Linked DNA regions of Homo sapiens: region 2 is linked to region 1. The links come from fine-mapping of genetic effects on gene expression. A gene starts in region 1. The other region holds a variant in brackets. All regions are shown on one strand. Distances are between the middles of the regions. Region 1 holds the start of C1QTNF4 (C1q and TNF related 4). Region 2 overlaps CELF1 (CUGBP Elav-like family member 1).

What was found. PIP is the estimated chance that this variant, and not a neighbour inherited with it, causes the effect.
Region 2: its variant is fine-mapped to the expression of C1QTNF4 in whole blood (INTERVAL, PIP 0.97).

What each region holds. Positions count from the first base shown.
Region 1 is chr11:47,590,163-47,598,492 of GRCh38, reverse strand. C1QTNF4 (C1q and TNF related 4) reads left to right here and starts at 4,082. Exons shown (of 2, transcript NM_031909.3): 1 at 4,082-4,345; 2 at 7,678-8,330. The coding sequence starts at 7,683.
Region 2 is chr11:47,520,830-47,529,159 of GRCh38, reverse strand. The region is part of intron 1 of CELF1 (CUGBP Elav-like family member 1); the gene reads left to right. Among named protein-coding and RNA genes, the nearest start is that of CELF1, 28 kb to the left of the region's middle. RefSeq lists a silencer at 4,263-4,322. The variant A/G (reference allele first, on the strand shown) is at 3,666.

The DNA.
Region 1 (8,330 bases):
GAGAGAGTTGTGATCCCAAGAAGCGGAGTGAGCGAGCGGGGAAATGAGACAAAGAGAGGAAACAGAATAAAGTGCACAGATAGGCCGGGCGCAGTGGCTCACACCTGTAATCCCAGCACTTTGGGGGGCCAAGATGGGTGGATCACGAGGTCAGGAGATCGAGACCATCCTGGCTAACACAGTGAAACCCCATCTCTACTAAAAATACAAAAAAAAAAATTAGCCGGGCGTGGTGGCGGGCGCCTGTAGTCCCAGCTACTCAGGAGGCTGAGGCAGCAGAATGGCGTGAACCCGGGAGGCGGAGCTTGCGGTGAGCCAAGATCGCGCCACCGCACTCCAGCCTGGGCGACTGAGCGAGACTCCGTCTCAAAAAAAAAAAAAAAAGCGCACAGATACCAGTGGGTTTTCACCATGGAGAACTTAACTCTGCTGGAGTCTCTCTGAGTCTGAAACATGACCTGGAATTGGGAATTGGAATGCTCCCATCGAGGGACCAGAAAGCTGGGGTATTTACCCCTAACTCTGGACCATTGGCTGATGGTTGCTCTGGGGGTATTAACTCTACAGCCCTTTGGGCCTGCCCCACACTAACTCCCATAGCTGAAAATGCCCTCAGGAGGGACACAGGAAGTAGGCGCCTGGTCAGGAACTGTCTGTGGGTGCCCTCCTGGTAGGCCTGGAGGTGTGGGTGGGCCACTGACAGCATCTACTACACTCAGTGAAAGGAACCTGCTATTAAAATTATTGTTGTTGGCTGGGCACCGTGGCTCACGCCTGTAATCCCAGCATTTTGGGAGGCCGAGGCAGGTGGATTACTTGAGGTCAGGAGTTCAAGACCAGCCTGGCCAACGCCATCTCTACTAAAAATACAAAAATTAGCCTGGTGTGGTGGCATACGCCTGTAATCCCAGCTACTCAGGAGGCTGAGGCAGGAGAATCACTTGAACCCAGGAGGCGGAGGTTGCAGTGAGCCGAGATCGCACCATTGCATTCCAGCTTGGGTGACAAGAGTGAAACTCCATTTCAAAAAATAAAAATAAATAAAAATTATTGTTGTTTATTAGCTGCCACGTGGTGGCAGGCTGACGGGGGAGGATCACTTAAGCCCAGGCTGCAATGAGCCAAGATCGTGCCACTGCACTCCAGCCTGGGTGACAGAGTAAGAACCTATCTCAGCCAGGCGCAGTGGCTCACTCCTGAAATCCCAGCATTTTGGGAGGCTGAGGCGGGCGGATCACCTGAGGTCAGGAGTTTGAGAACAGCCTGACCAACATGCAGAAACTCCATCTCTACTAAGAATACAAAATTAGCCAGGGTGGTGGTGCATACCTGTAATCCCAGCTACTCAGGAGGCTGAGGCAGGAGAATCACTTGAACCTGGGAGCGGGAGGTTGCGGTGAGCCAAGATTGCTCCATTGCACGCCAGCCTGGGCAACAAGAGCAAAACTCCATCTCAAGAAAAGAAAAAAGAACCCGTCTCAATTTATATATATTTTAATGTTAATTTTTTTAACTTTTTTTTTAAGTGATGGGGACAGCTGGGCGCGGTGGCTCACGCCTGTAATCCCAGCACTTTGAGAGGCCAAGGCGGGCGGATCACGAGGTCAGGAGTTCCAAGACCAGCCTGACCAACATGGTGAAACCCCGTCTCTACTAAAAATACAAAATATTAGTCGGACATGGTGGCGCGCTCCTGTAATCCCAGGTACTCAGGAGGCTGAGGCAGGAGAATCGCTTGAACCCGGGAGGCGGAGGTTGCAGTGAGCCAAGATCGCAGCATTGCACTCCAGCCTGGGCAACAGAGCGAGAGTCTGTCTCAGAAAAAAAAAAAAAAAAGAGAGAGAGAGATGGGGTCTCACTCTGTTGCCCAGAGTGGTCTCAAACTTCTGAGCTCAAGCGATCTTCCCACCTTGGCCTCCCAAAGTGCTAATATCATAGGCGTAAGCCACCATGCCCAGCCATACCCGTCTCAATTAAAAAATAAATAAAATAATTGTTGTTTAAGACCAGCCTGGGCAACAGAGTGAGACCTCGTCTCTACAAAAAATTTTAAAAAAAATTAGCCAGGCATGGTGACCTGCACCTGTAGTCCCAGCTACCTGGGAGGCTGAGGTGGGAGAATCACTTGAGCCCGCAAGGTCAAAGCTGCAGTGAGCCAAGATCATACCATTGCACTCCAGCCCAGGTGACACAGCAAGACCCTCTCTCAAAAATAAATAAAATTGTGGCTGCAAAACAAGAGAGGAGGGAGCAGGGACTATAACCAGCCTAGGGCTTTTCTCTGGATCCTGCTGCCACCTCTTCTTAACTCCCATTCTGGAGCCCACCCATCTGCCTTACACCCACCAGCTCATGGCATCATCTTTCTCTATATCCCTTTCCCAGTGGCTTCCTCCCTATCCCAGTCCCCTGATGCAAATCCTGATGTCATCTGCCCCAGCCACCCATCTCTACCTCAACCCTCACTTCTCTGGTGAGAACTCTTGTGGATCCAGGGAGTGTCAAATCCCAGCCTGAACCAAACCTCAACTGAGATTATATTATCCTATAATATACCTTCTCCCCTCCCCTCCCCTCCCACCATTGGAATCACCCTCAGGAGAGCAGCTCCACTCTTCTCATCCAGAAGGGGCCCATGGCCCTAAGAAGGGCCATAGATTGCCATAGGTTGGCTTTTGGCATCCCCCAGCTCTCCTTCGACATCCCTGTGTGGCTCATCCCACCCTTACCCTGCTTCTTGTCCTCCCCACAGTCCTGTGGCCCAAGCTTTTCAAGTTGGTGAAAGAGACAGTTGTGATCTGACAAGGGCTAGACAGGTGCTTCACCCTCTGTCACCAAATACCCTCATTATCCAGCCCAAAACACCTCCATTCATTCCTTTCTATTCTGGCACATATTCGTTAATTCATTCCATCATTCACCTAACACCCTTGAAGCAGAGCCAATCACCTCTACCAACATCTTCCTAGAGACAAATAGATTAACTGGGGTGGGGTAAACTTTGAGAGCTCCAAAAGGAAAGCTCCAGAGGACGGGGGTTCTGCAGGGGTCCAGGCCTCTCAGGGACCACAGAGCAGACCTGCAGCAGAGGCAGAATTAGAGCCCATGGCTCTGGAGTCAACCAGGGCCAGGCAGAGGGCACCAGCTCTTGGCTGCTGAAAGTAGAGCTCTTCAAAAGTCATCCACTCAGTCAGCATCTACTGAGTGCCAGGCAGTGTCGTCACCTCTACAGCCGTCAGGGGAGAGAACAGCAGCCTAGAGAAAGGGAGTCTGAGCCCCCATCCCACGGGCTCGAAGCCCAGAGTAGAGGCCAGCACTAGTGCCTCTGGTGAGTATTACCATGGGAAGACCGCTGTTCCCAGCCCGGGTGCCCTGCTGGACTCTTGCTAGCCTGGCCCCAGCGAGGCAGGGCATCAGTTTCCCTCTCCAGAGGCCTTTCTTCCCCACCTATTGCCCTCTCAATCCTGTCCCTTCTTGCAGGAGCAACCTTCCCAGCAGAAAATTCCATTCTGCCCCAAGGACTCTCCTCCTTACTGCCCCTCACCCCGGGGAACGCAGGCTGCCCCTCTGATGCCTGCAGACTCCCTTCTCCCTCTTTCCTAACCGACCGTGGGCATTTTCCAATTTGGAGGTGAGGAGGAAAAACTAGGTTATTTTCAGCTCTTCCTTTACTGGCAACATTGACCCATTTATCCTTCTCTTCCTTCAGACCTCTCCCCCAAGGCCACTTAGCTTGGACATCTGTCCCAGCCAAAATCTCACCTTCCACTGTCCTTGCAGCCCAAAGGCTAGTCCAGCCTCTGAGTCCAGCTCTAGCCCTCTCTCCCCACACTAGGAAGGAAGCTGGACTGTAGAGCGCTCTGGGCCACCCCGCGTTAGCTGCTGCCTCTGGCCTCAGTTTCCCCAACTGCTCAGATTAATGATGCCTGCTCTCTAGACCCAGAGGACGAAGCTCTAAGGAGGTCACAGATGAGGAAGGGTCCAGTGCTCGGCGCAGACTCCGTGCGGAGCCCCTAGGCCCCGCAGCTCGCCCCTCCCTCTCCCCTACTCCCCTCCTCTCCCCCTCCCGTCTCTCCCCCGCCTCTTCGCTCTCGCTCGGCTCCCTCTCTAGCTGACCTTCCCTTTCCCTCACGCCTCCCCACGCCCGGCCCCTGGCCCCAGCACCCTGTCCGCTGCCGCCTCAGAGCCGGGAAAAGCAGCCGGAGCCCCCGCCGCCCCTGCCGCAGCGCGGGCGGTCAGCGCGCAGCCCGGCACCCGCAGCCTGCAGCCTGCAGCCCGCAGCCCGCAGCCCGGAGCCAGATCGCGGGCTCAGACCGAACCCGACTCGACCGCCGCCCCCAGCCAGGTGAGGGCAGCTGAGGGGAGGCAGGGAGCCGAGGTTCCCCCTTTACTGGAAGCGAGGGCTGGGGAGGCGCGGGGAAATTGGGTCCTTTTTCCTTGAAAGGAGGACCTGGGAGCCTTTTCGTGAAACAGGCACAAGGGCTTTCATTCCAAAGGGATGGATGGATGGAGGGAAGGTCTCGGGGGAGAGGGATTGGTTTTTGTTTTTTAAAAATAAGGATTAATTGGCTTCTGTGAAAGTGGGACTTCTTGGAAGGATGAGGGGCTTTCAAGGTAGGTTGGGGAGGGGGCTCTGGCAGGGCTTGAGGGAAGGGTTAACTGGTGAGTGGCAGGGCAAGGGGGAACTCTGCGATCCCCTCAGCCTGACATCGCTGCACCTCCCGCCTTGGCTCCGGGGCTCTGGGTCTCTCCAGCTCTGTGTCCCAGTTTTTCTCTTTGAAGATGACTATTTTGAACCCCACCTGGACAGAGCCAGGAACAGCCATTTCCTTCCCTGGAGCTATGACACCCACCTGACACACCCTCCCACACCTCTGACCTGCTCAGGGAAGGGGGTTCAGGGAAGGACGAGGATCCAGGGATCTGGGAATTGGGCAGTGTGGGTGAAACGGAGGCTGGGTACTGGGTGCACAGGAAGACCCTTGGCACTGGTGGGGTGCACCAGCCTTGGTCAGGAGGTTGCTGGGCAGCTGCTTCTGGGGCAGGACCCACTAGGAAAGCAGCGGTATGGAAAAGCTGAGCTGTTTTCCGTGTTCCCAGAAGACAAAACACTAGAGAATGTGTTTGCTTGCTTTTGTTTGGTTTTGCTTTCTGTCTTCCTCACCCTGGATCCCAAGACTCATTCCTCTGATCTCCTCTCCTAGTTTTGCAAAAAGGTAAACTGAGGCACAGAACAAATTGGCTGGACATACCTGTGTCTAGGAGGGAAGAGTGACAGGAAGGCATACGGAATTTGAGTCAAAAAACCTCAGTGCTCCATGGGTGACCTTGGGCCAAAATGCTTTCCCTTGTTGGGCCTCAGCTTTCTCATCTATAAAATGGGAGACGGCCCACCTGTCTTGTAGGTTTGCCAAGACCATGTGTCTAAAAGAACTTTGTAAAAGGGAATGCACTGGACACTTGTGAGGTGCCATCTTCACCACTGTGGATGGCCCCTTCCCTCCTCCCTGTCCTAACCAAGGGACACCTAACTAATCCATAGGACACCTTTGTGAGAATTACAAAAAGCACCTCCTCTGGAAGGAGACAGCATTCAGTTGGCTAGCAACTTGGGGTCTTTAGTATGAGAATGAGAAGGTGGCATACTTTACGCCAGGTGCTGCTCTAACATGTGGAGTGTGAGCTAGATTCTAGCTGGGACGTTCTGCACATCTACACCTGACAACCCTTCTCAGCAGGTCCCTGCTGTCTCTAAGAGACACAGAGCTACACATACAGGGCATTTTCTAAAGCAGCCCACATCCCAGGCTGTCTCCAGCTCATTTCTTTCCTGTTTTGTTTCCACATCAGGGCTTTTGGGTATTCAAGCCCCAAAGCACGTGCCCTACTAGGAAGCAGGATGGAATCCCTACATCAGAGAGTGACTCCTTTGAGTTAAGCAGTGCCTTCACCAAGCTCTCAGGGGTAGGAGTGACTGAGTCCCTAAACCCTTACGTCAAGAACTGGACCAGATCACTTTTGTCAGGGCAACCGACAGAAGCATCTGCACACCTCAGCACTGCCGTTGACAAACCATGTTCACACCTATCTCAGCACACCCCCACAGCAAGCCTGTGTGTGAGGTCTCTTCCCCATTTACATGGAGGAAGCCATGCCCAGAGAAGTTAGGGAACCTGCCCAAGGTTTCACAGTGTGAGTGGTAGAGCCAGGACCTGAACCCAGATCTGGCTATCTGTCCTCTCCAATCCATCACTCCCAAGGAACAAAGCTGCTGACTTCACAGCCTTGCCAAAGCCCTGCTGGAATTGTTGCTGTCCCTGTCCATCCCCAGTAGCCCCTGGCTCGCCACTCCTTCTTCTGAGTAACCAGCCTCCAAGCAAAGAGAAAGGAGTCACCTTCTCTTTTACTCTGATTTCAAGGGGGAGGAAGCTACCTCAAAGCCCAACTGTTCTCGCCTCCTCTGTGCAGGAAGGGCCCCTGGTGAGGCCAGGAAAGGGGTCAGGGAGCAGCGATTTCCTTTCCTGCTCAGATGGGGCTTAAACAGTAACGGTCATGCAGAGCGTTGACACAGAGAGCCAGTGCCTGCGTGAGTGGCAGACCAAGGACCATAAAATAACCACAGGAAAATGCAGCCAACTGGAGCTGAGGGGAACTCAGAGACTCCCCTGAATCCCCCGGGTTACCAGGGCCCCTGAGTGTCAAATGGGAGGTGTAGGGGCAAGCCCAGCAGACAGGGCTGTAGGCCTCTTTAACCAGAGTGTTTCTGCTAGTCTGTGTTCAAGCTTTCACTTAAGAAAGGGGTTTCGGCCGGGCGCGGTGGCTCACGCCTGTAATCCCAGCACTTTGGGAGGCCGAGGCAGGCGGATCACAAGGTCAAGAGATCAAGACCATCCTGGCCAACATGGTGAAACCCTGTCTCTACTAAAAATACAAAAATTAGCTGGGTGTGCTGGGTGCAAGCCTGTAGTCCCAGCTACTTGGGAGGCTGAGGCGGGAGAATCGCTTGAACCTGGGAGGTGGAGGCTGCAGTGAGCCGAGATCAAGCCACTGCACTCCAGCCTGGCGACACAGCCAGACTCCGTCTCAAAAAAAAAAGGGGGGGGGGCGGGGTTTCAAGGCCAGGCGCGATGGCTCACGCCTGTAATCCCAGCACTTTGGGAGGCTGAGGCAGGTGGATCACTTGAGGTCAGTTCAAGACCAGCCTGGCCAACATGGTGAAACCCCGTCTCTACTAAAGATACAAAAAATTAGCTGGGCGTGATGGTGCGCACCTGTAATGTCAGCTACTCAGGAGGCTAAGGCAGGAGAACTGCTTGAACCCGGGAGGTGGAGGTTGCAGTGAAACGAGATCGTGCCACTACACTCCAGCCTGGTTCACAGAGCGAGACTCCATCTCAAAACAAACAAACAAAACAAAGAAATGCAAATTATCAGGCCCATCACAGACCTACTGAATGAACTCTGGTGATGGGGCCCAACTATGTATGTTTGAACACGCCCTCCAAGTGACAGTGAGGCTCGCTAGAGTTTGAGAATCCAAGGATGTAGGAAAATTGAAACCTACTTGTGGGTCAAGGGCAGGGCTGGGAAGAGAACCCTTGTCTCCCGGTGGAGAGCCGGGCGTTTGGAAGCCGCCCCTGCCAACACTCCACTCTCGCCCCTCCGTCTCCCTCCCAGGCGCCATGCTGCCGCTTCTGCTGGGCCTGCTGGGCCCAGCGGCCTGCTGGGCCCTGGGCCCGACCCCCGGCCCGGGATCCTCTGAGCTGCGCTCGGCCTTCTCGGCGGCACGCACCACCCCCCTGGAGGGCACGTCGGAGATGGCGGTGACCTTCGACAAGGTGTACGTGAACATCGGGGGCGACTTCGATGTGGCCACCGGCCAGTTTCGCTGCCGCGTGCCCGGCGCCTACTTCTTCTCCTTCACGGCTGGCAAGGCCCCGCACAAGAGCCTGTCGGTGATGCTGGTGCGAAACCGCGACGAGGTGCAGGCGCTGGCCTTCGACGAGCAGCGGCGGCCAGGCGCGCGGCGCGCAGCCAGCCAGAGCGCCATGCTGCAGCTCGACTACGGCGACACAGTGTGGCTGCGGCTGCATGGCGCCCCGCAGTACGCGCTAGGCGCGCCCGGCGCCACCTTCAGCGGCTACCTAGTCTACGCCGACGCCGACGCTGACGCGCCTGCGCGCGGGCCGCCCGCGCCCCCCGAGCCGCGCTCGGCCTTCTCGGCGGCGCGCACGCGCAGCTTGGTGGGCTCGGACGCTGGCCCCGGGCCGCGGCACCAACCACTCGCCTTCGACACCGAGTTCGTCAACATTGGCGGCGACTTCGACGCG
Region 2 (8,330 bases), 69 kb after region 1:
GTTGCAGTGAGCTGAGATTGCGCCACTGTGCTCCAGCCTGAGCTACAGAGCAAGACTCTGTCTCAAAAAAAAAAAAAAAAAAGTAAAATAAACTGGGTGAGGTGGCACACATCTGTACTCAGTTCCAGATACTTGGGAGGCTGAAGTGAGAGGATCACTCCAGCCCAGGAGGTTGAGGCTGCAGTGAGCTGTGATCCTGCCACTGGACTCTAGCCTGGGAGACAGATATAAAAGTAAAAGCTGGAAGCTTTACCTTTCTTTTTTTTTTTGAGGCAGGGTCTCACTGTGTTGGCCTGGCTGGAGTGCAGTGGCGTGATCATAGCTCACTGCAGCCTTGAACTCCTGGAATCAAAATGATCCTCCTGCCTCAGCCTCCTGAGTAGCTGGGACCACAGGCAGGTGCCATCATGCCTGGCTAATTTTTGTGGCTTTTGTTTTTTTGTGGAGATGGGGTCTCACTGTATTGCTCAGGCAGGTCTCAAACTCTTGGCCTCAAGTGATACCTCTGCCTCGACCTCCCAATTTTTATTTTTATTTTTTTAAGAGACAGGATCTTGCTTTTTTCCATGCTGGAGTGCAGTGGCACAATCATAGCTCACTGCAGCCTCAAACTCCTGGCCTCAATGAACAGTCCTCCCACCTCGGCCTCCCAAAGTGCTTGTATTACAGATGTGAGCCACTGTGCCTGGCCAAACTTTAACTTTTTAAAAAAATGTGAGATGGAATAACTGTATATTGTTGTCTTGAGTCCTTAAACTGAAAATCTGGTAAAAGTTGTGAATCCATTTCCTTATAAATGCATACAGAGGTAGAGTTTTACACATAGTATAAGGAAGTTTTTTGAATTTATGAAATGTCAATGGGCCATACATATGGACCCCGATCTAGTCCAATCCCGTATTTCTCTTGAGGAAATAAGGGAGGAGAACTGACATATCAAAGGCCATACTTTACGTGTTTATAGTCATTTTGATTTTGAGGTTATACTTGGAGCAATTCCTTTTCATGTACACAACTGTGGTGTATTGCTGTGTGTTTGTTTTTGGGAGGGGTGGGGGGATGGGGGACAGATTTTCACTCTTGTCACCCAGGCCAGAGTGCAATGGTGTGATCCTGGCTCACTGCAACCTCCGCCTCTCGGGTTCAACCCATTCTCCTGTCTCAGCCTCCGGAGTAGCTGGGATTACAGGCATGCACCACCACGCCCAGCTAATTTTTGTATTTTTAGTAGAGACGGGGTTTCACCATGTTGGCCAGGCTGGTCTTGAACTCCTCACCTCAGGTGATCCACCTGCCTCGGCCTCCCAAAGTGCTGAGGTTACAGGCGTGAGCCACCACACCTGGCCTGCTTTGTGTTATTTTTACTTAGTTGCCTTCACACAAGTATTTTTAGTAGAGAACATACAGGTAATTAAAGCTGTGATCTTAAACACGAAAAAAGCATATTAATTCACAGTAAACTGCTCTTTGGGAAGTCAAAGTTGCTGTAATAGGACTGCTCAGATTCTTAAAAAATTAAATACAGTGTATACAATGAAGTCAGTATATACAATGAATAAGCCAGTATATACAATGAAGAGGCTTAATTTTTTTTTTAAGTTTTGTAGAGACAGGGTCTGTGTTGCCCAGGGTGTACTTGAACTCCTGATCTCAAGTGATCCTCTCCCTTGACCTCTCAAAGTGCTGGGATTACAGGGGTGAAACACTGCATGTGGCCCAGTTAAGAGGCTTTTACTTAAGAGGCTTTTACTTAATTTTTTTTGTTTTTTGAGGCAGTGTCTCACTTTGTCACCCAGGCCGGAGTGCGGTGGCACGATCACGGCTAACTGCAGTCTTGACCTCCTGGGCTCAAGGAATCTTCCCACCTCAGCCCCCTGAGTAGTTGGGACTACAGGCACGTGCCACCATGTCCGGCTAATTTTTTACTTCTTTCTGTAGAGATGAGGTCTCCTTATGTTTAGTGTTAAGAGGCTTTTAATAACATGTTGAATACTTGCATGTCTGTTTTATGGGACATGAATGTGCCTCTACTGCTGGAATCCTGCTGTGTACTCAGTAATGGATAGGAGCTAGGCAGTGCTTTTTTCTTTGAAGCTTTTTTTTTTTTTTAGACGGAGTTTTGCTCTTGTCGCCCAGGCTGGAGTGCAGTGGCACAATCTCGGCTGACTGCAACCTCTGCCTCCTGGGTTCAAGTGATTCTCCTGCCTCAGCCTCCTGAGTAGCTGGGATTACAGGCACGCGCCCCCACGCCCAGCTAATTTTTGTATTTTTAATAGAGACAGGGTTTCACCTTGTTGGCCAGGCTGGTCTTGAACTCCTGACCTCAGGTGATCCATCGTGGGATTGCAGGCACGAGCCACCACTGCCCGGCCTGGAACTCCTTTTGATGACTGGTTAACTTAGCAGTGTTTTATAATCAAGGATCTCATAGTTATATCAGCATAAACATTTCTAGTTCCACCATTCTATTTCCCTGTGACAGGGTTTTTGTTTTTGTTTTTTCTTAATAGTGGTTTAAAATTTATTCAACAGGCTAGGCAGAAATGTCTCAGATGGAAGAACATTTTCCTGAAAGTGTTACATGAGAAATGTTACAGTGGATGCTGAGTTATGGTCTGAATTTATTTTTATCTTAGTTTAGAATATGTTTTCTCTAAAGTAGGCAAAAACTATAATTTTGCTTCCATAAGCAGTGTGGTATTAATCTCATACTATGAAACATTTCAGGTTGAAACCACACTCAGAGTTTCAGAAATGGAGGGATCTTAGAAATCATCTTGTTCAAATTCTGTATTCTTCACATTTAAGATATCGCAGGTGCCTTCTTTTTTTCTTCCTTGAGACAGAGTTTTGCTCTTGTTACCTAAGCTGGAGTGCAATGGCACAATCTTGGCTCACGGCAACCTCCGCTTCCCAGGTTCAAGCGATTCTCCTGCCTCAGCCACCCCCACACCTGGCATGCACCACCACACCTGGCTAATTTTGTATTTTTAGTAAAGACGGGGTTTCTCCCTGTTGGTCAGGCTGGTCTCGAACTCCGGACCTGAGGTGATCTGCCCACCTTGGCCTCCCAAAGTGCTGGGATTACAGACGTGAGCTACCACTCCTGGTGCGCAGGTGCCCTTAATGAGAGTTCTGGTAGGTGGGATAAGCAAGAAAGTCTAGGTCTGTCTGTTCTCAGTCTCTCTTCTCTCTTTTCTTTCTTCCTTTTTTTTTTTTGTTTGTTTTTTTGTTTGTTTGTGGATAGAGACGGGTTCTCGCCACATTGCCCAGGCTGGTCTCAAACTCCTGGGCTCAAGTGGTCCACCCACCTTGGCCTACCAAAGTGCTGAGATTATACATGTGAGCTATCAAGGCCAGCCTCTCTTCTCTTAATGTGTATAGCATTTATAGTTTGTACCCCACGCTTTAGTGCAGTAGTCATGTACTGTCTGCCTTTATTATTAATATCTCATGTTAATCTCATCTAGGAATTAGATTGGAGGTCACTGATACTATGGTTTTGATTTGTGCTGTAGCCCCTATGATACCGAATAAATACATAACCAGGCTGGGCTTGGTGGCTCATGCCAGTAATCCCAGCCCTTTGGCAAGCCGAAGTGAGTGGATCACTTGTACCTAGGAGTTTGAGACCCGCCTGGGCAGCATGGTGAAACCCCATCTCT[A/G]TAAGGGGGGAATAAAATTACATAGGTGGTATGCACTAAGTACTTCAGTAAGGGCTGAAGAATAGAATCATTTGAGCCAATCAGCCATGCATTTCTTATTGTTGGAAAATTCACTCTGGTCAGCAATTAAGCTTTTCACATACTTCACATTGAAGTGAATCTAAATGAATTGTTCTAAGTAAAATAATTTTTGGAACACAAATATTTGGCTTCTGGTTATATAAGCCATCATCCTCAGACATAGATTTTAAAAATTATATTAGAGTTTATTTTAACTTGTATCAACCATAAAATAAAAAAGAGCTCAAAACATACACAGTTGGAATGAGACCTTCATTCTGAAAGCAGCAAGGAACTAGTGAAAGTTAACATTGTTCACTCGAATGGAGAATAACCTTTTTTTGCATGTTAAATTTTAGGATTTAAATGATAAATTGAGCCTCACCACTACTGCTGATCTGGGAAGAATCTGACCTAGTAAAGGTTTTCAAATGTCTTTTCCATTTCCCGTGGCTGAGGGATTCTTGGTGTCAGTGACTGAAATTATTTGGAAGTTCCTTGACTGAAATAGAATATCTCAAACCTTATTTCAAGTACCAGCCTGTGTGTTTCTGTTTTTTGTCTGGAGCATGTGAACAGAATGCATGTGTGTGAGATAATTGGGCTTTCACTAATGGCCCCCTTTCAGCAACCATGTATGGGTAAAGCTGTTCAGTTCCCTGCTCCTCCCTCTCTGAGCACGGAGCAGAATCTGTTCTGCTGAAGCTGCTGTTCCACTTTTTAGCTTGCTATATTTGTACAGCAACAGCAGGAGCAGCCCACTAGCTAGGCCGTGTGGCCACCCTTTGGCACCCGCACCGGCTCAGACCTGCTCAGGACTCAGCCAGGGCACACAGTTTGTGTTCTTACGTGCATCCATCTGTCTGTCTGTGTGCGTCTCTGTGGAGGACTGAGGTTTTCAAGTGAAAGAGGTGACTCGTTTGTCTTTGTTGTTTTGCTGTGTTCAGGTTTGTCAATTGTAAATTGTAGAGAATGCTTCAGGTTGTTAGGGATGGGGTGAGGAGACAAGATTTGTATTTAACAAAATACCGTCTTGGCGAGAGGGTACCAAACAGGGAAATGTGATGTCAGAAATGGTCTTTGGGTTCCCTTAGAAACATACCTTGTTGAAGTGGTAGTGTTTTTTTTTTCCTCTTTGTTTTGTTACAGGTCACAAAGATCAGCTCTTGGGGTGGTATTGAATTCCTTTCCTGGCACTCAAATTTTTTGACATAAAATTTGAGTATAAAAAGATGAGGCACCTCCACCCCTTTAAGAAATGATTTAGTGCACATCTTGAAAGAGTGCAGTAGGGGTTAAGTGTGTTGACTTCGCTGTCTGCCAGGAAAGGAACTGTGGGGAATGCCCTGTTGCTTTGGGCCCCACAGCAACCTATGCTGTTTGCGCTGTTTGAGTGCTTTGTAAAGTTTGGCCTTACAGAGGCCTTGTAATGCCTTTTGGTGTCATGTCTGTTTAAGGAATAGCAGAAGACATGACATGTAGACAAATTTCAGGTTATTTTCAGAAGATACTGGGTTTGTTACTGTATTTTAAAAGGATACTTTCTTGGTTTGTTATGAGATATTCTAATTAAACAGTGATGAATTCTTACTCCTGGTCAGTGTAAGTCTAAATTCAAGTTTGTTGCTTTGTTTTACAGTTTCCTTTCACTCCCCTCCCCCATCCCCTCATGAGTCATAAGCATGCAGTGTTGGGAATAGAACTTGTCAGCTGAGTGGGGATGAGACAGTTCTCTGCCCATACTATTTGTAACTGTAGTCAATGAGGAGAGGAAAGGACGTTATTAAATGCTGGAGAAACACCTTGATTGAGGCAGCTTCTTCTGTGGCTGTGTGGTATGGATGCAGAGTTCTGTGTGACTATACACTGATGTATTCTGGCTCTGAATCACTTAGGGATCTCTTCTGCACCTTGTGCATTGTAGGTTTTGGATGCTTATTTGTTTAGGGTCTAGGACCTGGTGCTTAGCCTCTCCTGGATCCTGTATATTTACTGACTTTCCAAATTCTTTTGAGTGTGGCATTATATCTGCTTCATCTTCTCTTTCTTGGCTATTCTTAGTGCCCTTCTCATTTTACTGTCCTAATGTTTTCCCATTTATACTATGAATCATTGTGCACCCTATGTAGAGCCTGTCATTGGAGATTAAAATCAGTGGCAGCTCTTTGATTTTACAGCTCAGCCTCAGTAAGTGACACTCTGATTAGCACACCTATATTCTAGCTTTCTTTTTGTTCTTGGCCTTTTTTAAAATTTATAACTTCCCTGGTCTCATTTTATTAGTTTATATTTTTCCAGTGTGTCCATTTTGAAAGCTTCATGAAAGAAATTTTTTTTTTGGTTTGATGGAAGGAATGAATAAATGTTTATACATAAATAAGTGTTCTCAGAACAAGTGGTTTGGTAATCCATAATGAAGATATACTGGACTCTAACAGGCCCAGTTGGAGGTGCAAGATCTGTCAGCCTATTGCTGCCAGAATTCTTACCTATTCACTTCCCCCTCCTGCTAGGAAATATTTTGGAATAATCTCAGGTACCCAATTTTTTTTTTAAATAAATGAAGCCTATTTTATTACTTCAAGTTTGCTTTTTTTTTTTTTTTTCTGGAGATGGAGTCTCGCTCTGTTGCCCAGGCTGGAGTGCAGTGGCACGAACTCAGCTCACTGCAGCCTCCACCTCCCAGGTTCAAGCAATTCTCCTGCCTCAGCCTCTGAGTAGCTGCGACTACAAGCGCATGCCACCACACCTGGCTAATTTTTGTATTTTAGTAGAGATGGGGTTTCACCACGTTGGCCAGGCTGGTCTCGAACTCCTGACCTCAGGTGATCCACCCACCTTGGCCTCCCAAAGTGCTGGGATTACAGGCCTGAGCCACTGTGCCTGGCGTTTTGTTGTTGTTGTTGTTGTTGTTTTAGACAGAATCTTGCTCTGTCACCAAGGCTGGAGTGCAATGGCACAATCTCAGCTCACTGCAACCTCTGCCTCCCGGGTTCTCCTGACTCAGCCTCCGTAGTAGTAGCTGGGACTTCAGACGCCCACCACCATGCCCAGCTAATTTTTGTATTTTTAGTAGAGATGGGGTTTCACCATGTTGGCCAGGCTGGTCTCCAACTCCTGATCTCGGGTGATCCACCTGCCTTGGCCTCCCAAAGTGCTGGGGTTACAGGCTTGAGCCACCATGCCCGGCCTACTTCAAGTGTTAATGATAAAAAAAATTTCAGCTGGGCAAGGTGGCTCACACCTGTAATCCTAGCACTTTGGGAGGCCGAGGCAGGCAGATCACCTGAGGTCGGGAGTTCAAGACCAGCCTGACCAACATGGAGAAACCCCGTGTCTACTAAAAATACAAAAAAATCAGCCAGGCTTGGTGGCACATGCCAGTAATCCCAGCTACTCGGGAGGCTGAGGCCGGAGAATCTCTCGAATCCGGGAGATGGAGGTTGTGATGAGCTGAGATCATGCCATTGCACTCCAGCCTGGGCAACAAGAGCAAAACCCGTGTCAAAAAAAAAAAAAAATCAGCATAGCTGTTGCATTTTAAAAAGTGAAACTACACACTATGTTTCTAGCTCAGTAAACAGATGAACCTGTTGTCTTTGAGTAACATAACCATTGAGCGTTGTACAGTACATCTTAAGATCAGGTACTTTATTTTGAAGAGATAGAATCATCATGTAACAGGCTGAAATTTTTTGGGACTCATTCTTTTCCACCATAAACACCAAGCTTGGTGCCCAGAATAATAATAGTAGCAAATGTTTATTGAGCACTTTCTATGTGTCAGGCACTATTCTAAATGCTTTACATGTATAAATTTAATTCTAACAAATATCCTGTAAGGTAGATACTGTTTGTGTAACCATTTTGTGCATGAAGAAACAGAGGTATTTATGAAGAAGTTAAACAATTTCCCCAGTTACCTGGCTAGTAAGCAGCAAAACTGGGATTAGAAAGCAGTGGTATGACTCTAGAGTCTAGGTATAGGGTACATTGTGGGTTTGTAGTAAATATTTGTCTATTTTATTAGCACACTTTGTTATTTGAGATTATTAAATTATGAATCAGTCTAACCCATTTTCATTTTAGAATTTCCTTATGAAAATAACTATATGATTTTGGTTTTGCAGATCACCATCAACTGTACTAGTTCATTTATTTTTTATTTTATTTTTTATTTTTGGAGACGGAGTCTCTCTCAGTCGCCCAGGCTGGAGTGCAGTGGCACGACGTCGGCTCACTGCAAACTCCGCCTCCCAGGTTCACGCCATTCTCCTGCCTCAGCCTCCGGAGTAGCTGGGACTACAGGCGCCCGCCACTATGCCCGGCTAATTTTTTTGTATTTTTAGTAGAGATGGGGTTTCACTGTATTAGCCAGGATGGACTCGATCTCCTAACTTCGTGATCCGCCCATCTTGGCCTCCCAGAGTGCTGGGATTACAGGCGTGAGCCACCACGCCCGGCCCTCTAGTTCATTTATTGGTGGTAAAGAACAGCAAGCCAAGTAACAAGTTTGTGAAACATCTCTAAAATTACTAGTTTATCTCCACTAGTACCAGACTATTTACTGAAGATATTGAAAGCAGAATTAATTTTAGCCTTTTT